Linked DNA regions of Homo sapiens: region 2 is linked to region 1. The links come from fine-mapping of genetic effects on gene expression. A gene starts in region 1. The other region holds a variant in brackets. All regions are shown on one strand. Distances are between the middles of the regions.

Evidence for each region. PIP is the estimated chance that this variant, and not a neighbour inherited with it, causes the effect.
Region 2: its variant is the best candidate, but not a certain one, in a credible set for the expression of SMAP1 in whole blood (INTERVAL, PIP 0.53).

What each region holds. Positions count from the first base shown.
Region 1 is chr6:70,666,399-70,669,313 of GRCh38, reverse strand. It overlaps SMAP1 (small ArfGAP 1), which reads right to left and starts at 1,431. Exons shown (of 11, transcript NM_001044305.3): 1 at 1,173-1,431. The coding sequence starts at 1,290. RefSeq lists silencers at 690-749, 870-1,099, 1,250-1,649.
Region 2 is chr6:70,808,616-70,811,530 of GRCh38, reverse strand. All of the region lies in intron 6 of SMAP1 (small ArfGAP 1), which reads right to left. Among named protein-coding and RNA genes, the nearest start is that of SMAP1, 140 kb to the right of the region's middle. The variant G/A (reference allele first, on the strand shown) is at 1,730.

The DNA.
Region 1 (2,915 bases):
TTTATATAGTATTGAGATAGAACAGTAAAGCTTCAGGAAAAGTCTAAGTCAAATAACACAGAAATCTTAAAGGACATTCCCCAAAGAGACTGTCTCCTGCTTTAGAGAACTACCCTATTTCTCACCCAATAACGAAATAAACCAATTAAAAATATACACGATCTTTTCTTAACTACACAAGACATTTCTTTAAAAAAAAAAGAAATATTTCCCTTGAGATTACTTACAAGACATTAAACATAAATCAGATCTCCAAACACAAAACATAGCAGCTAAAAATAGTATATCTGTTTCAAAGGCTGAGGCAGAAGCCCTCCAACCGAAAAAACTAAAATTAGGTTTTTTCCATCTCTAGATCTTTAAAATGAACCTTCAGCATTTATGAGGTACACAAATCAGTGTCCACATATTCTCCCAAACTAGCTGGTCAGAGAAAACCTAATTACTAAAATCTTCAGAAATACAAACCCACCGTCCTCCAAGAGACTCATGTAATGAAATTCCTCTTCATTCTGGCTAATAACCAGACTAAAAAACAATACTACTACTAATAAAGACCTTTCTCCAATTAATTTATTCCGTAAAACTCAAACCCACCGAAAAAGACCACCATACTCTTTTTCAGGAAGCAGAGATAAAAGCCTTGTACAAAAGCTGTCAGGTGGGCAGGCAGGTAGGGCTCCATCTAGGAGACCAAGAATCCGAGCCCGGAGTGGGAGGACGTGGTCACACCGGAGGGTAGAGGAGGGGATCCAGACCTAAGCGCGGCCCCACCCACAGAGATAGCTATGAGCAGAGCTAGGAGGGCAACTCTCTAACCCTAAGCTCTGCCCAGACCCGTGCCCGGTTCCGCGCTCCCAGCCTCGCTCCTACCCCCAGCCCTGTGGAGGGTCCGAGCATCGCTACCCTGGCACCTGCTCAAACCCGTGTCTGGGAGGAGGGGAGGCTGGGGCCACTGACAGGGCCTGCGGGCCTGACCTCGCCGCCGCCTCTGGCGGACTTGAGGGTCGACAGGAGCCCCGCGCCCGCCCGCTCAGCCACCCGCCCTCCAGTCAGGGCAGGAGCCGGCCAGCGAAGCCGAGGCGTCCGCTCGGGCCCCGAGCGCCGCAGCGGCGGGAAGGTCACCGGTCGCAAGAGGCCCCGACCGTGGGCAGCGACGACGTCCAAGCTACCTTTGGCCTCGCAGTCGGCGCAGTACTTGTTGTCCTCCTCCCTCAGAAGCTTGGATAGGATGAGCTGGTGCTGCTCGTTCAGCTTCTGAGCCTTCTCCCGACAGGAGCGCGTCGCCATCTCGGCAGCGGGGCGGGGAGCCTGGGGCAGCTACGGCGGCGGCGGACGCTGGCTGGAGCCGGGCAGAGTGAACGCACCTGGCGCCGCCGGGACCGCGGGCGGACTCAGCCCAGGAAGCGGCAGCGGCAGCTGGAACGGGAGGAGGGGCGGCGGCGGCGGTGGCGGTGGTAGCGCCGACGTGTCCCGCCTCCTTGACCGGCCTGCCGGCACGCACCACCCTAGCCGGCGAGGGGAGGGGGAGGGGGACTGGGTCGCGCCGAGGCTTCCGGGTGGCGCGGAGGAAGGAACCCGGGCGCCGAGCGCGCTGCGCATGCGCCGAACCTACGGGGCCCGGGCTGCCGAGTCTTTTTGCAAAAAGGCCTTCTGCCCAAGGTGATTCCCGAAAGGTAGCTGGCACTGCCTCATACGAGCTTTCCCCCCTTTTGAGATGTGATGGTCCGCAAGGGCCTCTAGTAAAACCCAGTAATGGAAGACCTTTTACAAGAAGCCTACTTTGACTTGCCCATTTGCCTTTGCTCTTGCTGGCACAACATTGGAAATGCAGAAATAACTAGCGACTGGGTGGGTTCATTTACTCATTCGAGGTTTATTCGCCTGCAGTTTAGAAGCTGGAGACACGGATGGAAGAAAAGAGGAAAAACGGTCTCTTACATTTTAAGGGCGAGAAATAATCTAGTAGTGACATGTATTAGGGGATAACATTTCATTGAGTGATTACTCTGTTAAACGAACTGTTAGCTCATTTAACCCTTTCCCCAACCTTATGATATTGTTATCCTCATTACACAGGGGAGGAAAGTGAGGCATAGAGGAGTTAAGTAACCTGACCAGATTACAGAACTACTAGTGGAGGAGTTGAGATTTAAATCCAAAGCAGTCTGGCTCCAGAGTCTGAAAGACCTGGCAGTAAGCCCTTCCATAAGGGGGAAAGTGTGACCAGGAACCCAAGTACTAGGCGGTGATACTTTAACAAGAAGCTGTGTAAATAGTGATCCTTAATGCAAGAGAAAGAGAACTAAAGAAAACACTTTTCATTGGAACCCAGACCCTAATCCAGGCTCATGAAGTTTGAACTCCGGGTGACGCAGTTTCGATGATTTGGCATGTTGTATATTATGAGGAAGTTCTAATATGGGGCTTATGCAAGCCAAATAAACACAGTCCTTGCCTGCGATGAAGCAGATGCTAAGAAAGGCAATGAGCAAGAGTCGGTCTTACACTTCTTAGTAAGGCCAATTTCTAGCCCCTGTCCCTGCATAAAAGTGACCCTCATTGCTACCTAGCCCTGTTCTTGGCACAGGGGCTCAAAAATGTTTCTGGAATTAAATTGAATGGATATGGCAATGAAGATGCTCAGTAATTAAACAAATTAGAGCTTATACTACATAGCTCTGACAAATAACTACTAGGGAGATATTGGTGAGTTCCAATGAACAGAAAAAAACATTATGTGGGAGGTAGAACTTACGAGCCTTGTCCTGAAGATACGCTGGATTTAGATGGGGACTGGGGAGGGAGATATTAAGAAAGAGCAGCTTGCACAAAAGCATGAAGACCTGAAGTACCTTGGAAAACAGACTGGAACAAAAGGTACTACTTTTGAGATAAGGCTGCATAAGTAAACT
Region 2 (2,915 bases), 140 kb before region 1:
AGGACAACTATATTCAAAGGAAGCCTTGACTGATCTCACCGGTGCCCTCCCGAGGATCGCGTAACAGGCAGGTTTTCATTCTTCTATCGAGACCCAGTTTCATGGATCTAGATTTTGAATCAACAATTCTCAAGTGAGAAGTGATTATGCTTCCCAGGGGGCATTTAACAATGTCTCTGAAGACACTTTTTACTGTTAGGACTGGTAAGATGCTGCTGAACATCCTACAAGAAACAAAACAGCCTCCTGGCCACTCTATCCCTAATGCCAAAAATAGCACTTGGCATGTAGTAGGTACTCAGAAATGTCCAAAAAGATTTACATATGAAGAAACTGAGGCACAGAGTAGTTAGACATCTAGTAAACAGTAAAGTTGAGAATCAAATTAAAGTCTTGTAATCAAGTATAGGTTCTTCTATCTGCATCTTTTAGTAGTTTGTTAATATTTTTCAAAAGGCTTTTAAAAGCCTATTATCCTTTGACTCAGCAACTCCAGTTTTAAAAATTGATTGTAAGAAGTTATTACACAGTTGTACACAGATTATGTATACAGATTTTCATTATCCCAAAGAGAGATAAACTTTAAGTAGAGTCTTACTGTGCTCAGTGGAAGGTAAATTATGCTACATCCATTTGATGGAATGTTAGTAAAGACAGAAAGGCACAGTATATGTATCAATAAAAAAAGGGGAGCCAGGTGCAGTGGCTTATGCCTGACTTGAGGCCAGGAGTTCAAGACCGGCCTGGTCAACACAATGAGACCTCAACTTTAAGAAACTTTTTAAAAAATTAGCCAGACATGATGGCATGCTCCTGTAGTCCTAGCTACTTGGAAGACTGAGACAGGAGGATTCCCTTGGGCCCAGTTTGAGGCTACAGTGAGCTATGATCACACCACTGCCCTCCAGCCTGAATGAAATAGTGAGACCCTGTATCTAAAAAAGAAAAAAACAAAGAAAAGTCAGTCAAAATATTGTCAAATGACAAAGGGACAAAGTAGGTTACAAAATAATATGTATAATATGATCCCATGTGGATATATATATTTCCATGGGAAACAATTAGGAAGGATGAATGCCAAGGCATTAGTGATCATTTTTTCTAAGTGGTAACATTAATTTTTTCTTCTTGCTTACATGGATTTTGTGACTTCTTACAAATGTATATGGTTTGAATATTATGGGGAAGCAGAAGAAAGAGACTATCAAAAACCTACTAGGAGAGACAGGCACATTGGTGTATGCCTGCAGTCCCAGCTAGTCAGGTGCAGAAGGCTGAGACAGAAGGATCCTTTGAGCTCAGGAGTTCTACGCATGCCTGAGCCCCACAGAAAGACCCTATCTCAAGAAAAAGAAAAGAAAGAAAATACACTTGGAGGAAACATACATTTACCAATTTCTTGGTTAAAGAATAAGAAACCCTATACATTTACCAAACAAGACAGATTATTTATTTTTACTGAGGGGTACTACACTGTAATCTTTCCTGCTTCAGAGGAAAAAGATTTTTTCTTTTTTAATGCCTCCTAGCTAAAGAAAGATGAGGAGTTGTTAACAGCAACTAGCATTCTATACCATAATAAAACTTGGGCAACAGGGAAGCAACACTAAAATGCTTCCTAAACCTAATATATAGTGATACTGAATCTATTATTTCCTTTAAAAATCTATAAACAAAAGATCATCATCAAACTAATCTTCAAGATCTAGCTTTAAGCTAGAAATGTAAA[G/A]ATTTGAGGAAAATATAAAGAATCTTCCAAAACTACTTATACAAATGTTCTGTGAGACATCTGCTGCATTTACTCACCTATACCATGTTTCTATGATTTTTATAAAAGTATTATTTATTGAAAATATCTTGTTCTAAAATGCATTCACGCATCATATGAAAGGTTTATTTAGCTTAAATTACAATGAGAGCTTGGTGGGTGTGTAAATGTATCTGTCAGATTGTTAAACAACATAACCTATCAATCTAGCATCTGGCAATGAGCCATTTAATTTAATGATTTACTAAGAATAATTTATTTGATTTACAAGTGGTTGTCACTTTTACATGGTTATATTGAAATTTCAAGTTCAACAGATTTGCAATTGTTATCTTGTGCTTATATTAATAGGTTAGCTGACATATTTATCAAATACAAATGTATTTTTTAAATTGTATTAACATAAAAGGTTTGTTCAATGAGGAAGTTTGATGGTTGTTTTCATTTCTTTCCCAACTAATTTTTTTTAAATCATTATTCATCTACATTATCTCCTTAAATACCCAAATACTTGCCGTATCTTGAAATAAATGTATTGATGCTGGTAAGTATGTATTATCAAAAGCAGTGGTCTTCTCTTATAGCGTCACTGCTTCTCCACTTTCCTTCCTGGAATTTTTATTCTACTTTTATATACTTTGTGAATTGATTTTCTCTTAAAAACGTCAAGAAGCTAATGGCAAATATCTGCACAAGAGACATTATTTTACATTAAAAAATATCACAATACATACTTTAGGGACTCTATGCCAATGAAAACAATCTATTTTAAACTAAGAATACTCCACCAAGGCATATATGCAAGAAACCAGTAAGTGTGTACACACACACACACACACACACACACACACACACACACAGGGAAACAGCCTGCACTAGAAATAAATGGTTCTATTTTCTCCTAAATTAGACTTTGTGTTTTAACAGAAAAAAAAAAAACCTGATTAAAGAGAGCAGTAACTAATGTAGGCGAGAAACCAGTTTGAAATAATAGTGAGGAAAAGTCACTGAATAAAAACTAATTATGTAGCTATCTGAAATCCACCTTTAAGGATACTGTTAGATGATGTTTGGAATCAGTCCCTATGTTCAATAGGCGAAACAAGCAATTCTAAATTTAAAGCTATGTATTGGCAAAAGAGGCTCT